7 linked regions of the Homo sapiens genome follow. The protein of the gene in region 5 interacts with the protein of the main gene of each other region in a biochemical or structural test. Each region holds a gene or a part of one and is shown on either strand. Other genes may lie near its edges. The genes, in order: CD226, DUSP5, PKN2, TNRC6B, PATJ, CLDN9 and PRLHR.

The links.
Region 1: the proteins of PATJ (region 5) and CD226 interact in a test that uses a peptide from one of them, tested with the Homo sapiens proteins (one large-scale study listed by IntAct).
Region 2: the proteins of PATJ (region 5) and DUSP5 interact in a test that uses a peptide from one of them, tested with the Homo sapiens proteins (one large-scale study listed by IntAct).
Region 3: the proteins of PATJ (region 5) and PKN2 interact in a test that uses a peptide from one of them, tested with the Homo sapiens proteins (one large-scale study listed by IntAct).
Region 4: the proteins of PATJ (region 5) and TNRC6B interact in a test that uses a peptide from one of them, tested with the Homo sapiens proteins (one large-scale study listed by IntAct).
Region 6: the proteins of PATJ (region 5) and CLDN9 interact in a test that uses a peptide from one of them, tested with the Homo sapiens proteins (one large-scale study listed by IntAct).
Region 7: the proteins of PATJ (region 5) and PRLHR interact in a test that uses a peptide from one of them, tested with the Homo sapiens proteins (one large-scale study listed by IntAct).

Annotation. Positions count from the first base shown.
Region 1 is NC_000018.10:69,892,374-69,895,873, forward strand, and holds part of CD226 (CD226 antigen isoform a precursor), read right to left. Parts: coding exon 3,328-3,500; intron 1-3,327.
Region 2 is NC_000010.11:110,500,907-110,504,406, reverse strand, and holds part of DUSP5 (dual specificity protein phosphatase 5), read right to left. Parts: intron 1,687-3,500; coding exon 1,538-1,686; intron 1-1,537. UniProt on the Homo sapiens protein: Dual specificity protein phosphatase; active with phosphotyrosine, phosphoserine and phosphothreonine residues. The highest relative activity is toward ERK1.
Region 3 is NC_000001.11:88,687,273-88,690,772, reverse strand, and holds part of PKN2 (serine/threonine-protein kinase N2), read right to left. Parts: intron 1-3,500. UniProt on the Homo sapiens protein: PKC-related serine/threonine-protein kinase and Rho/Rac effector protein that participates in specific signal transduction responses in the cell.
Region 4 is NC_000022.11:40,268,425-40,271,924, reverse strand, and holds part of TNRC6B (trinucleotide repeat-containing gene 6B protein), read right to left. Parts: intron 1,804-3,500; coding exon 1,645-1,803; intron 1-1,644.
Region 5 is NC_000001.11:61,745,480-61,748,979, reverse strand, and holds part of PATJ (inaD-like protein), read right to left. Parts: intron 1,882-3,500; exon of another isoform or gene 1,848-1,881; intron 1-1,847.
Region 6 is NC_000016.10:3,011,545-3,015,005, reverse strand, and holds CLDN9 (claudin-9), read right to left. Parts: upstream 2,084-3,461; 5' UTR 1,644-2,083; coding exon 990-1,643; 3' UTR 501-989; downstream 1-500.
Region 7 is NC_000010.11:118,589,497-118,592,131, forward strand, and holds the end of PRLHR (prolactin-releasing peptide receptor), read right to left. Parts: 3' UTR 501-2,635; downstream 1-500. UniProt on the Homo sapiens protein: Receptor for prolactin-releasing peptide (PrRP). Implicated in lactation, regulation of food intake and pain-signal processing.

The sequences.
Region 1 (3,500 bases), on a different chromosome or scaffold from region 5:
CAGAGGATGTTAAGGGCCAAAAATAACTGTAGTCACTGTCAATAAACAGACATTCCCCTGTGCTCCCCCCGTCCCCACTTTCCTTGCCCTTCGGTCCAGGCAAGTTTCAAATTCAGAAAAGTCAGTCTGGAATTATTTCATTCTACATTTCAGGACATAAGTGCAAAGGACAAGAGAAATGTATTTCTTTTCACTCAGCAAAGAAAGTCAGTGGTAAATGTGAGTTCAGTTCTTGCTTCTGCCATTTTCTCCTCTGTTCAAAACCAATCAAGGCCTGGATACTTGACCTGCTGGTTGGCAGGGGTCCTCTGTTGAGTGACCTGGTACTTGTCTGAAGATGAATGCAGGCAGGTAGGAGTCAGGGGAAGAGCCCCTCTCTGTGTGTGTGTCCGTGTCTGTGTGTGCATGTGTGTGTGTGTGTATGAATATGAGAGTCCTAAAAATCTCTCTTTTAGATCCAATACTATGTGCTATAAAAGAAGTCATTGAGAACTAACAAAAGTATGTACAGCAATTTATAAAATCTGCCACAATCACCTTTCCCTTGGCAGTTGAAATAAATTAAATCTGTCCCACATCTTATATCTGTCTCTCTGCTTTAATCTCCACATTGATTTTTGACCAAAGAGCCTCAAGACGTGAAATAATCAAATTGCACCAGAGAAAACACAAATGATCTGTTTTGCTTTGCATCTAAGTTTTATATTCAATCTTTCACTTATAAAAATTGAAAAAAGGAATTAAACTGAAACATACAGTCAATGGCTGTCATCTTCTGTCAATGATAACTTTTTACTAATGGATACAAGGTCCAGTTGACATTCTTTCAATCTGTCAACTGAATGTCAAAAAGCCATTTGCAACTGTTCAAAACACATGGACACTAACACTACTGACCATTACATTTAGTCATCTTCATTTCATTGGCAGAGTTTGACGCTGTTTATAATTTACATACAAAGAAATAGTTTTGTGCAAGAAACTTAGTCATCTTTGGACAGATGAATGACATTTTTATTAATTAATAAGAGTTAAATAACCATATCTCCTAAAAATCTGTTACCTTCATTTTCTCTATAATTTAAGATGTTTACAATTACTTTTTCAGCATATAATGGGCAAAATCTTATACGTGTTTGAAAATGATTCTTTATGACACTTTTCTGAATAGAACATTTTTTTCTTGCCTTGGTCTCTAATCTGTTTTCACTGTTTCTTTTTCCTGACCAGTTTCAAAAAATACTTCCATAATGCAAGGGATTTTTAGGTAAGAAGTTCTTTTTGTCTGTGTCTGAAGGAACAGAGTCAACATTTAAAATGAGGAGTCTCTGCTAATTTTTCCTCCCCCAAATATTTCACCAACCACTCATCATTTTCATTAAATTCTAAGTCCAATGTATGTCTCACCACAGTTCCTAGAGGAACAAGGGAGGCTTGATGTGGTCCAAGGTGATTGTGTATGAAAAGATGTTATTCCCTGAAAATGCTCTCCTTATTATACACAGAGCTATAGTGGAAGCTTCTGTTTATACAAGACCTTTTCTTCTTCATTTTCAACACAGGAAGAAATATCAGTTTGCAATATGAGCAAAGTCTATAAAGGGACAGCCAAAGCCTAGCAAGCGTTGGCTCTACAAGTCTAACATAAGTCAAAGGTAAATTAGCTGGCTGAAAGCATGTGGAAGGGAGAAGGGAAGGAAGAAAAGAAAAGGGAATGGAACAGAGTGAAAGAAGGAAGGAAGGGAAGGAAAGATGGAAGAGAGTGAGGGAGAAAGGGAGGGAGGGAACTGTAATACAGGCCTCTACACAGAACTCTATATGGACCTCTATATTTGTACTTCTGTAAATAAAAAAAAAATCACTTTTTCTCACAATCATACAAAGTGGATCTAGGTTTTGTGGGGGCTGGAATCTTACACAATTTAAGGATTCATTGTGACAAAAGAGACAAATGCCTAATACACAAATAGTGCAGTGCTTTGGAAGGGGCCTGCTCAAGTGGGAGGAAGGAAGGAAGGAAGGAAGGAAGGAAGGAAGGAAGGAAGGAAGGGAGGGAGGGAGGGAGGGAAGGGAGGGGAGGGGAGGGGAGGGAAGGGAAGGGAGGGGAGAGAAGGGAAGGGAGGGGAGGGGAGAGAAAGGAGGGGAGGGGAGGGGAGAGACAGGAGGGGAGGGGAGGGGAGGGGGGGGAGGGAAGGGGAGGGAGATGGGGAGGGGGAGGGCAGGGGAGGGGGAAGGTAGGGGAGGGAAGGAAGGGGAGGGGAGGAGGGGAGGGGAGGGAGGAAGGAAAGGAAGAAGGGAGAACAAAGTGAAAGGTAAAAATAAATTATTTTCTCTTCCGTGTCCCGACAGTGAGGAAGCTGGCCCAGAGGCAGAGCTGGGAGAGCCTGGGATGGCCTTCCTCTCTCTCAACTGTAATGCAGGCCTCTACACAGACCTCTATATGGGCCTCTCTATATTAGCACTTCTGTAAGTGAAAGAAATTACTTTTTCTCATACTCATGCAAAGTGGATCTAGGTTTTGCAGGTCCTGAAACACAATGAAAGGCTTCATTGTGACAAAAAAAAGACAAATGCCTAATATACAAATAGTGTGGTGCCTTGGAGGAGGCCTTGGAGGAGGTGGAAGCCCCAAAGGCCAATTTCACCAGCACAAAGATTATACTCAGTAATGGTCACCAAAGATCTAAGTCAGTGGTTCTTATAGTATGTTTGGGGGTCCCTGAGGATCCCTGTGTCCCTTTTGGGGATCTGCAAGGTCAAACCTATTTTCCTAGTAATATTAAGATGCAACATCAGTCTGTTTCTGCATCCACATCTGAAAAAGACTGAGAGAAAAAAAGGCTCCTGTCTGGCAAACTGGCAACCGCATTCTCAAACACCTGCTGAAATGCACTCAACGCAGCCCTGCTTCAGCCATATCAACCTAGCACTGTCTTGTATTGCTGGGGTATGTGGGGATTCTAACACCTTATCACCACCATCAAAAATATTCATGTAATTGGGAAGATAGGAGTTCTACAGCTGAAACCTGAAGGCTGGTAATACCATATGTTTTTCAGCCCTTTACGAATTTCTTTTTTAAGCTTCAGGATGGTGGCAGATAAGAAAATTGGAAAGATTTTTATTGCTGTATCTGATTGATGGATTCACAAGATAAAGAAACCCTCAATACTAGAATAATGGCCAACTCACCTAAATTCAGCCATTTAAAAAAATGCTGAATATGCGCATTAAATGAACATGTTTACCATAAATAAAAACAGAGACCAGCCCACGGGGCTGGCTTTTTCCATGTTTGATACCAGAAGATGTCTGGTGCTCACTCACCCTCGGCTACAGTCAATCTCATCACGAAGGTTTCGTTTTCTCCTGCGCTGGCCTGCAAGTAGCAGCGGTAAAGCCCCGAGTCTGAGACTGTGACATCGGGGATGACGATGACGCTCCACCTTCCGTGGCTGCAGTTGCTCACTATTTGTCTTGGGAACTTGGAGGTGAAATTT
Region 2 (3,500 bases), on a different chromosome or scaffold from region 5:
TTCTTTCCCTTTTTGAACTTCTGTTTAGACCAAGAGGAAGAAGCCAAAGGCCTTCAGAAACCCCAAAAGTTAACACAACCTCATCTGGCTGCTCTAAATGCAGAAGCATTTCTAAGAAGTAGCATTAGGGGGTTCCCCAGATGAATCTTGAAGACACATCAGGGCTTTCTCACCCCTCACTTGGCCAAAGATGTGCCGTGCTTTCGCAACATTCTGCCAATTCTTATTTCTCTTTCACTTTCTGAGAAATGGGGGGAAAACACAACCCAAACAAACAAACAAAAGTAGAAATCTAGCTAGGCCAGATGTCCACAGCTTGAAAGCCACAGGCTCGTCATATACTGTAAGGATGTTTATTAAAGGAAAACAAACAAAATCCTAACCCTGGCATCTGGACAAGCTAATAGGATTCCTGACCAAGGAGCCCGTTCAAGAAAAGGTCATCTGGCTTTACTTTGAAGTTTATCCCCAGGGACAGGGTTTTGTTCATGGCAGGGAGCTGGCATTTTAGCATCTAGCAATCTTTCTTCTTATGATTTGGGTATGTTCTTGGTTTATGTGAAAAGTTTGAAAGGTTACTCCCACCAGGTCAGGTGTCTAGATTAGAGGCCATGTGGAAAACAGAACAAGGTCCTGAAATAATCACAACAGAGAGCTGAGAGAAAGGGGTTCTGAGCCTGATGCTGCCTTGAACCAGCTGTAGGACTCTGCAAAATCAATCATCTCACTTGTCACAGAACACTTCTTTTCCCTTCCGTAAAATGGTTAGGTTTTGATCTCTGGCTTCTGCCAGATTTGGATTCTCACCTGCTTTTTCATCTTCCTGGATGGTGCTACGTAACCCCCTTCCACTTTATTTTTCCCTTTAATGAGTTATCACAAAGCACTCATTTTTAGAAGAAAAACAAAAACTCACTAGTTTACAGAAACATGAAGCCCTCTAGTATCTTTTGATTTCCTCTGGTTTCAGTTATCTGTGGAATTGTAAGCATAAGAACCCCTTAGAGGAGCCTACTTAGCCACCCAAACAGGACTTTCTCTGTAGCACCCCCACCAACACCAGTTTCAGTTAAACATACCAATAAGACACACCTTGACAGGTACCGGGATGGTTTGCAGAAACTGCAGAGCATGGACAATTACAAAGAAAAGCAACACAGGAAGCCTGAAAGTCAACTCTGAAATGTCTTCAGGGAAACCTAGACCAGTATTTCAAAGCTTCTCTGAACCTCCGAAGCCAGATGACAATAATGTATCTTTCACTTCCCCTTTTCCCCAGAAGCTGCCAAGCATCCTGTGGCTGGTTTGCTCTTGTCAGCTCGTTTGCTGGAAGGAAGCCCATTTACTCTTGGATGGAAGCTCAAGCTGGCAAGCAACAGAAGCTCCCTAAAGCCAGGGGATTTTGCCAACACCCTGATCCACAAAAGAACTAACCATCATTGCTGAGTGGGGAGAGAACAGTCAGGTGCTGAGGAAGGAAGGGAGACAGGAGCCCAGAATACCACTCAGGATACCTCTTCCCCATCACATCACGTACCTGGTCATAAGCTGGCCTGTAGCTGACATTTACCACTGGTTTTCCACACTGGCTGATGAGGGCTCTCTCACTCTCAATCTTCTCTTGTGAAATGGGTTTTACATCCACGCAACACTCAGGATATTCCGAGTAGAAAGTCTCATATCCCCCTACAAAAACAAACAAAAAGGTGAGACAGATGGTAAGCATCAATTTCTCACGCTGTCAAAAATACCCATAGTTAATCAATACTCTGAGTGTTACACAGTTAAGAAAAAAAATAAGCCAGTACAGATTCTGGTCATTAAAAATTGAGCAAAACCAGCAAACAGATTTAGAATAGAAAGGGGCTGTACACACATACAAACCTCTAAAAAGAACTCTTTCAGAGGCAATGATTAACTTTTTGTGTCTATCAGAAGCAGATTAAACTGTGAAAGAAAGTGTCTAGCATCTGGCAAATACTAACCAAATCCCTCCAGAAAACAAAGGCTATTTTCTCTCTTGTTTATCTAAAAGGAAGGTGTGATTACCCAAAATTTCATTAATTGGCGAGAAGACAGGCTCCTGAAGTGGCTTCTTCCCCAGCCCATCTGCTCTAAGCAGGATTCTAGCTGGAACCTCCTCCATTTATAAGGAAATGGGGGCTGATACGAGGTTTCATTTCGACTCAGGGCAGTAAAACAGCCTCACTGCTTCTCACTCCCAAGGTGCTAAGAAGAACACTGCTGACAATCCTTTCTAGGTCCAATTTGGAGTCATCAATCCAGTTAATTACCTTCTAAATCAACTGAAAGAATAAAGACTTCTGAATTTAATTCTCAGCCCTCATGAGCAAAAACTGTCTCTGTCCCCTTCATGACCACCCTATCTTCTTATCCCCACTTTTCTTACTTCTCTCCTACTCCTCCTGCACCCCCCCCCCAATCAATAAGTCAACTTACGGCATGTGTGACTCTCAGAATCCTTAATATTACATTTACACCTCTCCAAATGGATATAAGGTAAAAACGACCCTCTGAGCAAGTCACGGAAACTTGCAAATATAAGTAAGCCTTCTTGGGCCCATTTCAGTGGGGAAGAACCGAATGAAAAGGTGGCCTTGGAACCCTCAGAATGCCAAGGGCTGCCAGGTGCAACAGGCCAGCCTTGCTTGGGAAACTCCTTTGCTGGTAACCCAGAGAGCAACCTGAGACATTTCCTAGGGCCTCCAGAAAGCCCACTTGTCTTTTTCTGGCCCAGAGAATTCACTTGGAGTCAAATCCATTAAACATGCATTCTGAGACCATGAATTTTCCAAAGAACCCCCTTTTTCTTTTCTGACTTTGGGTGTTGTGATGCTGGCTTTTTTAAAGCCCTGCAGTAGACAAATGGTTAATGGATTACAAGGCAGTCTCCAACTCCCTCCCAGAAGCTGCAGCCAATTCCTAGAATGAGTCATCTTGCCATTACCGCTTCCTCTCAGCTCACTGGAACTGCCCCGCCCCCACTTAGTACACCCAGATCTCCCCTGTGGTCACCTCACAAGCAGCCCATTGCGCCTGCCCATGAGCTCCTGGTCCTCCTCAATGACCATGCTCCCCACGACAACGGGAGGCCACGGCAGAGGTGCAAGATGGTGCTATAGGCAGCTTAGCTTCCCATGCTCTGCCATAGCCCCTGGGCCCCTTCCCTTCCAGCAGTCAAGAGAGAATGAGGCAGGCTCACAATGACCCACAGCTTCCTTGGAAGAGGCATCCCTAGTCAGTAAACCACCTGATCACTTCCCGTGCCTGGACCTCGACATTATGGGTTCCAGGAGACAAACAAGGATTTGGATGGGAATTTGGAGTTCAGAATGACCTGGGCCCTCCCAAACTTCAGGACGAAGGTTGGGGAAATAGGAATCTTCAGGCTACCCCATCTTTTGGCTTTAAATATATTACTTCAGAGTTGGCTATCAGGAGGACAGATAAGAGGTTCGGGTGTGGGCTGGATCCTGCAT
Region 3 (3,500 bases), about 27 Mb from region 5:
TTCATTTTTTACAGGCAATATTTATGTATATAATGTTACACAAATTTCATTTTTGTGATTGCAAAAAAAAACCAAGTATGATAATAGAGCTAGTTTCAAACAAGATTTCATCAGATAAAATTAAGACAAGCTAGACATGCATCAAGATAAAGATTCTCTATTTCTGTTTCATTAAGGAATTACTTTTTCATTAGTATATTTTTCCCACTCTAAATTTTAAATCTTTTTAAAGCTTTTAACTAGTTTTCAACTTTGCTGTCAAGTTTGAACTCTGCTGTATATCAAAAGTTGATCATATTAAATGTCATATACTGTAGAGTAAAATTGGCTTTTGAAATAATATAGACATTTGACAATTATCAGCACAGTATATTTTATGAGGGAATAATGTAGAATTAACTGTTTTATTCAAATACCATTTATGGTATGAAAGTAACATTATTTTAGGTGATGTTTACAAACTACTACTTTATTTGTTTAAAAGTAAACATGCTTCTGATGAATGGCATGAAAATTTACCATTGCCAAATTCAAAAAGCAGAAATAAGAGAGCCCAAGGAATCAGATGCTAAGCTCTGGGATAAAGAGATGATGTCTAAAAGGTGCCCCTACTTGTCCCTATTTCAACACTATGTGAATGGTAGGAATTGCATGATACTAGACCTAATCTCTATTACACTAATGAGAGATGACAAAAAAATCCATTTTAGAGCCATCATTTAGTAACACTAGTTTTAACACAGACTTTTATCTTGGTAGTCAAGAAATATTTGGAAAGTTATTTAGTATGTTTAATTCAGCAAAGTATGCGCTGCAAATTACAAACATTGTGGTAGTCTATAAGAGCAGCAACAATCAAACCTAAGCCGGAAAAACACACTGTATTGCTATATTATTCAAAGAAATTGTTGCTATACTTCATTACTGTCTATTACTAAATCCATACTACTGCACTTTTCTTTGAGACAGGTTCTCACTCTGTCACCAAGGCTGGAGTGCAGTTGCGTGATCTCAGCTCACTGCAACCTCCGCCTCCTGAGTTCAAGCAATTCTTGTGCCTCAGCCTCCCAAGTAGTTGGGATTACAGGCACACATCACCACACCTGGCTAATTTTTGTATTTTTAGTAGAGACAGGGTTTCACCAAGTTGGCCAGGCTAGTCTCGAACTCCTGACCTCAGGTGATCCGCCTGTCTCAGCCTCCCAAAGCACTGGAATTACAGGTGTGAGCCACTATGCCCAGCCTGCACTTTTCTTCTTAATAAAGCCGTGACTCATAATTGAAATATTTTGAGATTAAAAAAGGCAATAAAAGCTAATTAGATCCACTCATCTAGAACCAGTGGCAAGAAAAAAGTTTTTAACCTACTGTGATTTCTATCTTAAAATTCTCTGAGCTTCATTTTTCTTCAAAATTCTAGTAAGTAAAATGAGATAAAGAAAAAAAAGAAAAAATGGACTCTACAGCCATGGGACTTTTAGGTGGAAAAAGTCTGTCAGTCTCTAAGTGACAGAACTATGAGCAACTTTTATTTTCTTTTGTGCTTTTCCACATTTTCTGGATTTTCTGTAATACATGTGCATTACATTTCTAATTTGAAAACAATGTAAAGTCTGTCTTAACTACCCTGTTTACCTTCTCATACCACCAACCCCCAAACCACCCTAAAATTTTAATCCTCCCAACTCAGACCTTCCACTTTCCAGTGTCACTGCAAAATTAGATGCCGTCTTCTCATTTTCCATTAAATGAGTAAACTACCAGTGTGCTATATGGAAGAATGATGTAACTACTATAGAAATCCCTTTTGTACTTTTAAAGAGAATATTTTTGGGAGAAGGGATTAGAAATGTAAATTAAAGAAAACTACGTAATTTCATATGTCAAAGATTATAATGAACTTCTCTTAAAATAACCTAGACATCCCTCCTCCTACGTGACAAATGGAGCATTCTCATCAATGTATTGCGCACCTACTAAGTGTCAAACACAGAGCTAGGTTACATGTGAGTATAAAATTTTAAAGCAAAGCACAGTCTACAGAGTAATGTTAAATCTTTTGGGAAGTTTTGGGCAAGCATGTGACACCTTTCATTAGAAACAGTAATTCTTAATGAAGAAACCCTGTAAAAAGATTATTTGTACTATTATTCTTTGTGAAATATTAGACTGTATCTACAATAATAAAACACTGCTAAATTATAGACTACCAAGTGGAATGTAGAAATCATTTTTCCTTGTTACAGACGGAGCTAACAAGTAGTGTAAAGTTAATGTTGGTTAATTACGTTTTTGGCCAATTTGTAGAAAGTTCATACAACTATAACATTAGATGCAAAACATTTATAGTTCCCCAGAACTGTGGCAATTTAAATAATGGTGTAGTGGCGCCGGGCATGGTGGCTCACACCTGTAATCCCAGCACTTTGGGAGGCCGAGGCAAGCGAATCACGAGGTCAGGAGTTCAAGACCAGCCTGGCCAACATAATGAAACCCCGTCTCTACTAAAAATACAAAAAATTAGCCGGGTGTGGTGGCAGGTGCCTGTAATCCCAGCTACTTGGGAGGCTGAGGCAGGAGAATCGCTTGAACCTGGGAGGTGGAGATTGCAGTGAGCAGAGATCACACCACTGCACTCTAGCCTGGGTGACAGTGCGAGACTCCGTCTCCAGAAAAAAAAAAAAGAATAGTGTAGTGGGAAACATACAGACCTGGGTTCAAACTCAGACACACAATGTAACCATGAGCAATTTCCTTAACATTCTTGAACTTGTTTCCTGATCCACAACATGGAAATAACACCTACCTTATTGGATTGTTGTGAAGATCAAATAAGGTGTATAGGACACTAAGTACAATGTCTGATATATAGCAAATAATTTTTAAAATGTTATTTGTAGTCTCTTATAATTATCTTCTAGTACAATTATCTATACTCTCTTCTGGAAAGCAAAAACCTATCTTGTCATCTTTATATCCTCCAATATAGCTTTGGTAGATACTACATAACTGTTTGGTGAAATTAACCCCTGTAATTTAAGGGTAACTATCTCAACTTTCCACTTGAGCAAGTTACCTCTATCTAAATAAAATCTGCTGAGAATGGAATTTAAGATTCCCAGACCAACACTTTATTGGGCATTTTGATGAAGAAAATGAATCTCCAATAATCAACAAGGTAGCTTTGTTAGTACACTGCTCAATATTTGGTCTGCATTCTACAAAATTACCATTGTAGCCAACACTTTCATTCTGAGATTCTTTACAGTTTTCATTAATCCAGGTTTCTTGGAAATAGACTTTAGTTTCTTTGGCATTGCAAAAATGTCTGTTTTCTGCTATACTTCAAATAAAAAAAGAGAATACAACACAACAAATTAGTTATGAGATAAAAATTAGAAATTGGCCATTTTAAACAGCCGATTTTTATTTTTACTACAGTAAATATTCTTCCTTATACCTTGAAACCTCTAGCCACCAAAGTTTACATAGTTTATTAA
Region 4 (3,500 bases), on a different chromosome or scaffold from region 5:
TTCATAACATCAAATTTAAGACAGGCTACAGAAGATCACAGGGTAACTGTCTCCATCAACTGGTAGACTATGATGGTTTAGCCCTTTCTTCCGCACATTACACATTTAACTTACCCACAGAAAGGATGTGTGCTATAACTACAGATGATCCTGAAGAGTAGAAGACATTTTTAGAATCTGAGGAAAAGTGGTTTTGTGATAGAAGAGAGGTGATCCTGAGGTTGGGAAAGACACATGAAAATCCTGAATATACTGCTAAAGGATCTCTTTGTGCCCAGGGTCTGATTAACATCTTCTTGCAGCATTTTGGGTCTATTTCAAGTCTACTAGATTACATTTCCCATGATGATACGACTGATTTCACAATAGAAATAATGATAAAAACAAAATTTTCATAAAGCTAACTATTTTAATGAGGTCGAGGAGATTCATGATTTTTAAAATGTAGTCAAATTACTACATATACACACATGTGAATTTCCAGAATAGAGCTAATATCACATTCCCTTATGTGGCACTGTAAGAGTACTGAATATAATGTGATAAACTTAACAGAATTTATCTTCTTGTTTGAATTTTGGTCATTCCAGAAATGTTCATTATTTAATCAAAAGATAATCCCTTAAATCTGCTTCTATATGGTAGAAAAGAGATGTTGGAACATTTTAAAGAAAGTTACAAAAGTAAGTGTAAACAGGCACCTGAATTTAGCAACAGTCAATGAGACATTCCATAGCCTCAGTCCACAGAGTTCTGCTCATTACTGTGACCACACATCACCAGCTGGATCAAGTACAGCTTAGATTTTAGATTTTCAATGATTCTGAATAAGTGTGACGTTCTTCATTTAAAAAATTGAAGTGAAATTTATGCCAGGTTTAAAAAATCTGAAATGCTCTTATGTGGAAGAGAGACAACGGCAAAGGAAGGTGCAGAAGGATGAAGTCACTGGGCAGCACAGATCGTGTTCCACATTAAAAGCCAGGAACTCTTGTTTTAAATTATACTAACAAGTAGAAATGCAAGCTAGATATGGTGAGCACATAGTCACTGGGCTAAAAGAGCATCACATCAAAATTATAATTCTGTCCAGATACTAAATTTAAAACAAAATTAACTTATGATTTTTAATTCACCTTAAACATTTTAAGAAACGCCAAGCCAAGCCACAACCGTTTGCTATTAACTAATTATTTAACACTCAAGGTCCTGAATCTCATTGAATCAACAGCTTAAAACTAAACAGCCCTCACCAAAATGTCAGATTCTCAAATCTGACATTTGACAAACATTTAACAAAGAATCCCGGCCGGGCACGGTGGCTCACGCCTGTAGTCCCAGGACTTTGGGAGGCCAAGGCGGGTGGATCACAAGGACAGGAGTTCAAGACCAGCCTGACCAACATGGAGAAACCCCATCTCTAATAAAAATACAAAAATTAGCCGGGCGTGGTGGCGGGCGCCTGTAATCCCAGCTACTCGGGAGGCTGAGGCAGGAGAATCGCTTGAAGCTGGAAAGCAGAGGTTGCAGTGAGCCGAAATTGCACCACTGCACTCCAGCCTGGGTGGACAAGAGTGAAACTCCGTCTCAATTAAAAAAAAAAAAAAAAAAGGATCCCTCAAAAATGAAAAGCTTCACACTTACTAGGCTTCATGGCATTGGGAGCGTTGGCGGGCGTGTTCCCCCAGCCTGTGGTCGATGCTCCTGTATCATCCATCTCGCCCCACCCAGGACTGCTTTCATTTGGCTCACCCCAAGCGGAAGTACCATTATCTGGAGCAGGTGGTGTGCTTTTGCTCCAGACTATAAAGAAAGGAAATGTCTCTAAGAATCATTTGTTAAATGAAATGCCATAATATCCAGTGGGGTGAAGGTGGAAGGAACAGGCATGCCTATATTCTGTTGGTAGAAATGTAAATAGATTCAACTTTCATGTGAGGGGTATTTGGCAATGCTACTTTTTAAAAAATCCGATGCACATTAAACTTTTCACCCAGTAACTCAACTGCCAGGAATTTTTTTTTTTTTTTTTTTTTTGAGACAGAGTCTTGCTCCATCCCCAAGGCTGGAGTGCAATGCCGTGGTCTTGGCTCATGGCAACCTCCACCTCCCAGGTTCAAGCGATTCTCCTGCCTCAGCCTCCCGAGCAGCTGAGATTACAGGCGTGTGCCACCATACCCAGCTAACTTTTGTATTTTTTTTTTTAAGTAGAGACAGGGTTTCACCACATTGGCCAGGCTGGCTTCAAACTCCTGACCTTGTGATCTGCCTGGCTCAGCCTCCCAAAGTGCTGGGATTACAGGCATGAGCCATCATGCCCAGGCTGCCAGAAAATTATACCATAAATATACTTGTAAAAATAGGTGAAATTACATGTATAACAATACTCACCGCATCACTGATAGAAAAAATTTGGAAACAACCTAAATATCCACCACAAGGGGACTGGTTAGACCAATTGTGGGTCACCCATAAAAGAAGTACTGTGTAAAGGCCAGGCACAATGGCTCACGCCTGTTATCCCAGCACTTTAGGAGCCAAGGCGGGTGGATCTCCTGAGGTCAGGAGTTCAAGACTAGCCAGACCCACATGGCAAAACCCCATCTCCAGCAAAAAATACAAAAATTAGCTGGGCGTGACGACGCATGCCTGTAATCCCAGCTATTCGGGAGGCTGAGAAGGAGGCTCACTTGAACCCGGGAGGTGGAGGTTGCAGTGAGCCAAGATTGCGCCACTGCACTCCAGCCTGGGAGACAGTGAGACTCCCTCTCAAAAAAAAAAAAAAAAAAAAAAAAAAAGAAATACTGTATATGAAGCAATTAAGCAGCAGACTATGTGCTAAAATTGGAAGCTATAAGTATAATGAGAAAAGCAAGGTGAAGAACAGTATACGAAGTACAATCCCTTCTCTGTAAAATTTTTGAATGGGACACAAACTTCTAAGAGATTACCTTTGGGAAGAGACCCTAGGGGTTAAGATTATTATTATTATTATTATTATTATTATTTTTTGAGACGGAGTCTTGCTCTGTCGCCCAGGCTGGAGTGCAGTGGCGTGATCTCAGCTCACTTGCAAGCTCCATCTCCTGGGTTCACCCCATTCTCCTGCCTCAGCCTCCCGAGTAGCTGGGACTACAGGTGCCCGCCACCACGCCTGGCTAATTTTTTCGATTTTTTAGTAGAGGCGGGGTTTCACCGTGTTAGCCAAGATGGTCTCGATCTCCTGACCTCATGATCTGTCCGCCTCGGCCTCCCAAAGTGCTGGGATTACAGGCGTGAGCCACCGCGCCTGGCCAAAGATTATTTTATTGACTATCTTTTGCTTTTCCACACAGTTTGAAGGTTTTTGCTATGTGGATGTAGCTTTTTAAAATTTTAGCAGGTTTTATTCTGCATGGGGAGCCAGTGAGAAATCTTCATTTCCTTCCTCATTCTTTTCAATACTTGAAAAAAGAATGAGTTAAAAGTAATCATTTTTCTAAGAGGCCACAAATGGATTA
Region 5 (3,500 bases):
TACTTCATATGTATACTGCAAACACTAAAGAGGATAATTTAGAGCATTTGGCCTAGCACATGGTACACATTCAACAAATGATAACTACTATTAGCATCTCTTTTCAATCAAAATGATTTAAAACATGGCAAAACCCCATCTCTACAAAAACAAAAACTAGCTGAGCGTGGTGGTGCGTGCCGGTGCGTGCCTGTAGTCCAGGCTGAGGTGGGAGGAACCCTTGTGCCCAGGGGGTCAGGGCTAGTGAACCATGATCATGGCACTGCAAAAGCTAATAATTAAATTATTGTAGCAGAGATTTTAGTGTGTAATCAGTAAGTTAGTTCTGAGAAGACTGAAAAATAAAATGTTTCACCACTGTAGTGAGTATAAGGGAGGAGGTTATAGAGAGGACCTATAATTTGGAGTATTAATCCATTTACATGGCCAGGCGCAGTGGCTCACGCCTGTAATCACAGCACTTTGGGAGGCTGAGGCGGGCGTATCACTTGAGGTCAGGAGTTCGAGACCAGCCTGGCCAACATGGTGAAACCCCGTCTGTACTAAAAATACAAAAAATTAGCCAGACGTGGTGGTGCATGCCTGCAGTCCTAGCAACTCAGGAGGCTGAGGCAGGAGAATGGCTTGAACCTGGGAGGCAGAGGTTGGAGTGAGCGGAGATCAAGCCACTGCACTCCAGCATGGGCAAAAGAGCAAGACTCGTCTCAAAAAAAAAAAAAAAAAAAAAAAAAAAGGCATTAAGGCAGTATACACATAGCAGTGTAAGTGCTTTGGTAAACTAAACCCTCTTAAGAATAAACATATTCAGATCAGTGGCTCACACTTGTAATTCCAGCACTTTGGGAGGCCGAGGCGGGTGGATCACGAGGTCAGAAGTTAGAGACCAGCCTGAGCAACATGGTGAAACCCCGTCTCTACTAAAAATGCAAAAATTAGCAGGGTGTGGTGGCGCACGCCTGTAATCCCAGCTACTTGGGAGACTGAGGCACGAGAATCACTTGAACCCAGGAGGCGGCTCCAGCCTTCGCAACAGAGTGAAACTGTGTCTCAAAAAATAAAAATTAATAAGATATTTTAGATTCCTTTTTACATGAAATCTGTTCAAAATCTTGTGTGTATTGTGCATTTACAGCACATTTCAATCCTAACTAACCCAATATAAAGTGGCCCATGCCCACGTGTGAGAGTGGCTTACTGTAGTAAAGTTTTAATCTATGCCTTTCCAGAAAGATCCCTGTTTGGTTTTGTTTTTTCTTCCTCCACCGTGTTTTTAGGAAAGACTTCATCAGTTCAGCTCATATGGTCTCTATGCCTTTTCTTAAAGTAACTATCTGAGTAAGAGCACTCACAAACTTGAGTTCTTCCCAATAAAAAGATCACAACTCCATAATTTTACCGGAATTAAACATAAGGGAGGAACAAAAAGCAGGAGAATAACAGCTTACAGATTACAAGACACATTCTTGAACATTCTTTTCTTTCAACCTCGCCAAATCTCTGTAAGGCAGACCATTTGCAAATGGGACCAGATTCTGGAGGACCAGAATTAAATGACTTGTCAAGCGTTATATGGTAGGTGGACCCAATTCCTTGTCTCCAAACTTTACTGGCTGGACAGCTGTACGAACACAAAAAATAAGTGAGCTCTACATCTTCAGCATCGATCTATCCCACTGACTTAAAAGGAAGGGTATTGACAGGCACTAAATTTCTCCCCATTTGCACCGGAACCTAAAATAAGGGCTTTAAAAAAGGCATCCAAATCTACACAAAACCCTAAGGAAGAAAACATAGCAATGGTCATGCAAATACCAAGGTAGATTGGTCCCGTTTCTCAAAAAACTTACCAAGTTGGCTCACCAAGGGGAGCAAAGTCTTAAGTGAACAAATTAAATCCCACTTTGGCTTCCCCAACCTAATATATTCTTGTTAAACTTTAACAAAGCAAGTAAATTCAGCCTGCTGGCTCCTCAGTGTAAGGATAATTATTAAATGCTGTTAAGTAAAAATGCAATTGTAAGAACTAGAAAATGCTGAGTCATTGTCTCAGAATCACAAGGTTCTAAATGTGAATTCACTATGAGAACATATATACAGATTTTTCTCTTTAACTTTAAAAATGCAATCTGAAAGAAAATACATCCTAATGTTATTAGTGGTTATCTCTCAATAGTAGTCTGTGTACTTTTAGTTTCTTTTTTGAAAATTTTCTCCAATTTTTCTACAATGAATATGTTAGCTTTATAGTTACAGAAATATTAATGTATGGCTTAAACTTATTACGGTTTCATTAAATGCAGAATAGAGCTTAATTTTCTATTCAGCTTCAAACACAACTATTTTTCTGATGGGAAACCCATTTTATGTGACCTTGTGATATTGCATATTGGTTTTCATCCATGATTCCTGGTTTATAACTCCCATAACTCTTGTTACAGTCTTTTATTATACTGTTGGGGTGCTTTAAGTCTCAGAAGCAGTCCCCAGAAATATCTCTGACACTCTCCTGCCCCTCCTTTCATTCGCTCCTTTTTCTCCCCAAGGCAGGACTCTAATCTTCCCCTGCTTTTCCATCTTGAAGGTGGCTGTAAAGAAATTCTCTGGGCCAGAAGGGTGGCTCACGCCTGTAAGCCCAACACTTTCACAGGCCAAATCGGGAGGACGGCTTGGACCAGGAGTTCGAGACCAGCCTGAGCAATATAACGAGACACAGTCTCTACTAAAAATTTTTTAAAAGAGGCCAGGCGTGATGGCTCACATCCGTAATCCTGGCACTTTGGGAGGCCAAGTCGGGCAGATCTCTTGAGGTCAGGAGTCCGAGACCAGCCTGGCCAACATGGCAAAACCCTGTCTCTACTAAAAATACAAAATATATATATATATATTACCCAGTGGTGGTGGCGCACACCTGAGGTTGTGACGCTGAGCCAGGACAATCGCTTGAACCCAGGGAGGTGAAGTTTGCAGTGGGTGGAGATCGCGGCACTGCACTTCAGCCTGGGCAACAGAGTAAGGCTCTGTCTCAAAAATAAATAAATAAAATAAATGAATAAAAATTTTTAAAAAAAAAAATAATTGCCAGGCCCGGTGGTTCACGCCTGTAATCCCAGCACTTTGGGAGTCCAAGGCGGGTGGATCGCCTGAGGTCAGGAGTTCGAGACCAGCCTGGCCAGCATGGTGAAACCCCATCTCTACTAAAAATATAAAAATTAGACAGGTGTGGTGGCAGGCGCCTGTAATCCCAGCTACTTGGGAAGCTGAGGCAAGAGAAGCGCTTGACCCTGGGAGGCAGAGGTTGTAGTGAGCCAAGACAGCGCCATTGCACTCCAGCCTGGGCAACAGAGCAAGACTCCGTCTCCAAATAAATAAATTAATTAATTAAAATAAAATAAAGTAAAATAATTTTGGCTAGGTGCAGTGACTCACGCCTGTAATCCCAGCACTTTGGGAGGCCAAGACAGGTGGATCACTTGAGGTCAGGAGTTCGAGACCAGCCTGGC
Region 6 (3,461 bases), on a different chromosome or scaffold from region 5:
GGCTGGGCTTCCCTAGATGTCACTGGACAGCTGCCCCCCATCCTACTCAGGTCTCTGGAGCTCCTCTCTTCACCCCTGGAAAAACAAATGATCTGTTAACAAAGGACTGCCCACCTCCGGAACTTCTGACCTCTGTTTCCTCCGTCCTGATAAGACGTCCACCCCCCAGGGCCAGGTCCCAGCTATGTAGACCCCCGCCCCCACCTCCAACACTGCACCCTTCTGCCCTGCCCCCCTCGTCTCACCCCCTTTACACTCACATTTTTATCAAATAAAGCATGTTTTGTTAGTGCATTTGGTGTTGCAGCGGGTTACTGAGTGCCCACCCTGGCTAGGGGAAGAGATGGGCATAAGTGAGTCACGATCCCCTCTCCCCGTGGCTTGAGTGAGCATACCCACCAGGCAGAACCTAGAGCCAGACCTTGGCCTGACAGCCACCAAGGGAGGCCACCTGGCTGTGCCTGCCCAGCCCCAGCGGCGGCGCACAGATTAGAGGGAGCCCAGTTACAAATGCTCTTTATTTCCAACTCGAGGGTGGGGATGTTGGGGAGAGGGAGGTGATGGGCAGGCCCTCCCTGACAACTCCAGGGTTGGGAGGGCATGGTCTGCTCCCTGGTTTTGGAGCCAACGAGCTGCTGCTGTTTTGGTGAGGCCAGGGTTCCTGGGGCAGGGGAGGGCTCAGAAGAGAAGGAAGGCCAGCCAGTGTCCTGGGCAACGGAAGGAAACAATTACTGGGGAGGTGGGGGCAGGCCAGGGTTCCCAACACCTCTAGGCTGCCCAACTTGGGGGAGAACATCAAAGGGGACCCCACTGAGAAGAGCTCAGCCAGGCCAGCTGACCCAGCCCTGCAGCCAGGTGTAGCTTGGGCTTTTGGAAAGTGGGTTTTCCTGGGGAAGGAGGTTGTGATGGAGCAGGGCATCTGGTCATCAGGCCAAGGTCGAAAGGGCGGGGCAGTGGGGAGCAGTGGGCTCCCAGGGGAAACCTCCGCCTCACACGTAGTCCCTCTTGTCCAGTCCAGATGCACCCGAGCGGGAGGGGATGGAGTAGCCCAGCCGAGGTCCGCGGGGCCGCTCGACCTGGGGCGGGGGGCACGTGCAGCAGAGGAGCCCCCCGCCCAGCATAAGCAGTGCAGCCGCCGCCCAGCCCAGGTAGAGGGAGGCCCCCAGCTCCCGCTTGAGGGCCTCAGCCACCAGGGGGTTGTAGAAGTCCTGGATGATGGCGTGCGCCGTCCAGCACACAGGGATGAGCACCAGGATGCCGGCGAGGAGGAGGATGACCCCCGCGGTGAGCACGATACGGGCCTTGGCACCTTCGTCCTCCACACACGTGGTACACTGGGCACCTGTGATGGCCACCAGGAGGCCAAGCAGGGCCAGCAGGAGGGCAATGACACAGAGGGCACGTGCGGCCTGCAGGTCCTGCGGCAGAGCCAGCAGTGAGTCGTACACCTTGCACTGCATCTGGCCCGTGCTCTGCACCACGCAGGACATCCACAGGCCCTCCCACACCACCTGGGCCACCACGATGCTGTTGCCGATGAAGGCGGTCACCTTCCACAGGGGCAGGGCGCAGGACACCAGGGTCCCCAGCCAGCCCAGCACAGCCAGGGTCATGCCCAGCAGTTCTAAGCCGGTCGAAGCCATCTGGCCCCTCGGTTAGGTCTTCTCAGCCCCAGGCGGCCTAGGTGACTCAGAGGGTGTGTCTGGTGTGCTGGGTGGGTGTCTCTGTGTCCAGCAGGAGGGGGAAGGCTTGTTGGTGTCCCCAAGCCAGGCCAGTCCTCAGTTCCATGAAAGGCGCCTCTTGAAAGGCGCCTCCTCTCCGTGCCTCTTGCAGGTGTTTCTGGTCCTCGCGGAGCACAAAGCAGACTCGTAGTCCCGCTCGGCTGAGTGGTGGGTGTCACCTCGAGGGGCCTCCGCCCATCGGATGCCCTGAGGGTGCTGCTGCTCTTACCACCCCGCTGTCACACCTGGGCTGAGCTCGCACAGGCCCTCCAGACGCACTGCCAGGCTGAGGACAGCCACGTCTCCTGCCGGCTGGCGCAGGTTCCCACTGAGCGACTCTGACAGTGCCACCTGGGGACTCTGCGGGCTCTCGGCTGCAGGCGGGGTTTTAAGGCCCAGGCAGGGGAGGAGCAGAGTGAAGTGCAGGGAGGCCGGGATAGGGGAGACCTGAGCCACGGGGAGGGTGCGGGGCTGGGGGTTCGTGGGCAGCGGATGGATGAGGGGCCTGGGGGCCAGCGGGGGATGCTGCGGCTGAGTGGGGACAGGGGAGGAAAAGCGTCCGTAGCATCTGTGCATGTGGGAACCAAGGGTAAAGGAGGGGAAGATGGAGGACAAGCTGAGGAAGAAGAGACGGATCGGGGGTCAAAAAAGTAACAGGCTCAGGACAGAAACACACACAGGGGGCGTCGGCTTGCCTTCCTGAGCCTCCTCCTTCCGCAGCCCCTCCCCAGCTGCCTCTGCTCTCCCCCAGCCGAGTTTCGTGATGCAAACATGCCCCAGCTCCCCGAGTATCGCACACTCCCGCCCGCCTGGGACTCTCTGGAATCTGATCCATCCCCCGTCTCAGCCCAGTGGCCCCGCTAGCTCCCGGGGGAAGGTCCCCGCCTGCACTGTTCCCCAGACGACAGGTGCCTGGCGCCCAGCTCAGGTGGCATCGCCCTGGCAACGGCCTAGAAAACTACCCCCCACTTCAACCTCAGCTCAGGTGCGCTCTTGCCACCCCTGCTGCTGAAACCGAGGCTGAGCTGAGCTGCCTAAGATCTCCAGAGGCCAGAGGATGAGGGGCCTGTTGTGGAGGTTGGGGGGCACTCAGGAAGGGGGATGGAGGCGGGACGGGCTGGGGCTGGAACCCAGGGTGGGGCACAGCCCAGGACCCGGTTATGTTCCATGGGTGGGTGAGTGAGTGGCCAGTCAGGCCTCCCGGGCCAAAACACCCCAGAGGTGGGCACGGGGGTTAAGTCCAGGGACTCAAGTGTCCCCAAGACCTGCCTTCCAGTTTGCAGGAAAGCCTTACCTCCGGAAAAACCCCCTCAGAGCCTGTGATTCCACTCATGGGGACAGCCTGGGAGTCCCACTGACCAAAGCTCAAATCCTGACCCCTACCTGGGACAGGTCATGGAAGGTCGAGGTCCTTAACCTCCTTTGGTCAAAGACCCACTTGAGAAACCCCGTGGGACTCACAGAACATGCACCCACAAACATGTGCCCCTCATTTGTGGGGGAGGGTTCATGAACTCCTTCAAGCCCCTGCCTGGGTGCTAAGAACCTCTGAGGATTGTTGTCTGAAAAAGGGGTGTGACGGCCAGGTGCGGTGGCTCACGCCTGTAATCCCAACACTTTGGGAGGCCAAGGTGGGCGATTCACGAGGTCAGGAGTTCGAGACCAGCCTGGCCAACATGGTGAAACCCCGTCTCTACTAAAAATACAAAAAATTAGATATCCCAGCACTTTGGGAGGCCG
Region 7 (2,635 bases), on a different chromosome or scaffold from region 5:
TTTTTGAGTGGTATTTTAGGTGTACTGAAAAATCTTTTTTATGACTCCATCATGAACATTTTAGAAACCTCGTGATTTTGCTTATAGACCCATATGTGGGATGTTGTTAGACCTTCCCAAATTATGTGTGAGAAATGGGTGATAAAATGCTAACATTTAAATAACTCTCCAATATATGATGGTATAGAAATTAGGCATGAAGTTCTCTACTCTCATTTTGATGGACCCGTGGATTTAGGCATATGCAGTCTTGGGGAGTAGAGAGCTTGGTGCCATATATTTAAATGCTGGCATTACTGAGGTTGGGGGCAGGGGGTCACAGAAGACCCAAAATGAACAGTTCATCTCTGGAATAAGGTGGAGTTGACAAATCTAGGTTGAATAGCATGTTTTCCTTGACATGATTTATCCTTGCTTTGACTCTGGCTATCCTGAGGTTGTGTAGTTACCCCATATGTATAACTGGCTTGGTTTATTAATCCTGTGGCTGAAGACTGTGCAACTGATTTAGTATTTATTGAGCTCCCACAACATGCCAAACACAGTATAAACCCCAGCATGTAGAGCTTCACATGTGATTCAGCAACACATGCATTTTACACACATAGCAAAGACATCAACGCATGAAGGTAAATCAATCAAGAACCTGCCTTGGGAAACAAAGGTGCTCCTGACCTCTCGTCTGTGAGGGACAGGCCCTGTGTTCACTCCCAGATCTAGCCACACTCTTGAGGTTAGTTTTGTGCCTTGCATTTGAAAGACTAACAGATGTTCAGGAATGCAAACCACAGGACAGAGGTCGTGGGTGAGCCTACCTGAGAAAATAAACCTGGAACTTAGCTATCCCAGTAAAACAGCAGATTGAAAATTCACAAGGACAAAAAATCAGACGGTTATAGGAACTGGAATATCCTTACCTTAGCATCTCTCACAATTGCTATTTCCAGGTAGCTGTTGGAGCATGCATTGAAACACTCTTCTGCCAGTTTAATGAGATAAATCTATTGATTGGCTGCCAAAAGTGTGACCTGGTGACAAAGCTTGCAAAGAGGATTACAGAACCTCCCATCAGCCTTGAGAAGGGCTGCTGCCAAGTACCAAGTTGGCTCAGTTCCCAGCCTGACTGCCTGTATTACTCCTTGCAGGAAGAGGACTGTGTATACATCTTAGATGCTTGATATTAACCAAAATGAATTATTAAATAAAATTTTCTACCTACAGTCCTACGCAGTTCTCTCTGGGACTCACCTCTGATTTTTTTGAAATTCGGTTTGATTTATAAACTAGTCCACAACACATTTCAGATGTTGTAAGAATTAATTGCTGTTCCGTTGCTGATTTTCATAATATGTAAAGATGTTTATAAGCACAATCTAATTCTCCAACCTCTTTAAGCTCTTTATAAAGTCCATGTAAGTGTTTCAAACTTAAGTTGTAGGCATGACAGAAACCAGTGGCAGCTTTTCTAGTAATTAATGGAGATGCTTGTTTTTCATAGTTGATATAAACTTAAGCTAATCAAGGAGCACTTTTTCTAACACCCTGACAACCAGGATTTAAAATAATTCATGGTATGTAAATTTGTTTTTTGTTGTTTTTTGTTGTTTTTGTTTTTTTTGTTTTTTTGAGACTAGATTTTGCTCTGTCACTGAGACTGGAGTGCAGTGGTGTAATGATAGCTCACTGCAGCCCAGTGATCCTCCCAGGCTCAAGTGATCCTCCTGCCTTTGTGTCCCAAGTAGCTGGGACCACAGGTGTGCACCACCACGTCCGGCTATTTTTTGTAGAGATGGAGTTTTGCCATATTTCCCAGGCTGGTCTTGAACTCCTGGGCTCAAGCAATTCTCCCTCTTCGGTCTCCCAAAGTTTTGGAATTATAGATGTGAGCCATGGTACCTGGCCATGGTATGTAACTTTATAATACAATTGACCTAAGGTTGAATGATGATATTCCTTCTGAATTGATTGGACTGATACATAAGAAATATGTAAGTAAACTGTTGAACGAATCCCTATATATTCTGATTTCAATAATTTGCCTCTTTGTGATTGAGCTGGTATTGCCTGAAGACTAAAAGAGTATTCTCTAAGTATGGCATGTAACACCGTCAAATTCAGCTCCAAATTATTAACACCTTTGGCAGGTACAACTAAAGCTTCATTCGGATGTTTCTGAGATTCATTAGAAAGAGGATTCCCGCCCCCACCCCCCACCCCGAGATGGAGTCTTGTTCTGTCACCCAGGTTGGAGTACACTGGCACAATCTCAGCTCACTGCAACCTCTGCCTCCCTGGGTTCAAGCAATTCTCCTGCCTCAGCCTCCCGAGTAGCTGGGATTACAGGCGTGCGCCACCACGCCTGGCTAATTTTTGTATTTTAAGTAGAGACAGGGTTTCAACACGTTGGCCAGGCTGGTCTCAAACTCCTGACCTTGTGATCTGCCTGCCTCGGTCCCCCAAAATGCTGGGATTACAGGTGTAAGCCACCATGCCCAGCCCTAGAAAGGATAATTCTTAAGGTGCTTAATCTTGGTTGCACATTAAAATCCCCTGAAGTGCTTTGGAAAATGCTAGTGTCCAGGCACCATCTCAAATCAACTAGACTCTTGGGAGGAGAGCCCAGACATCAATTACA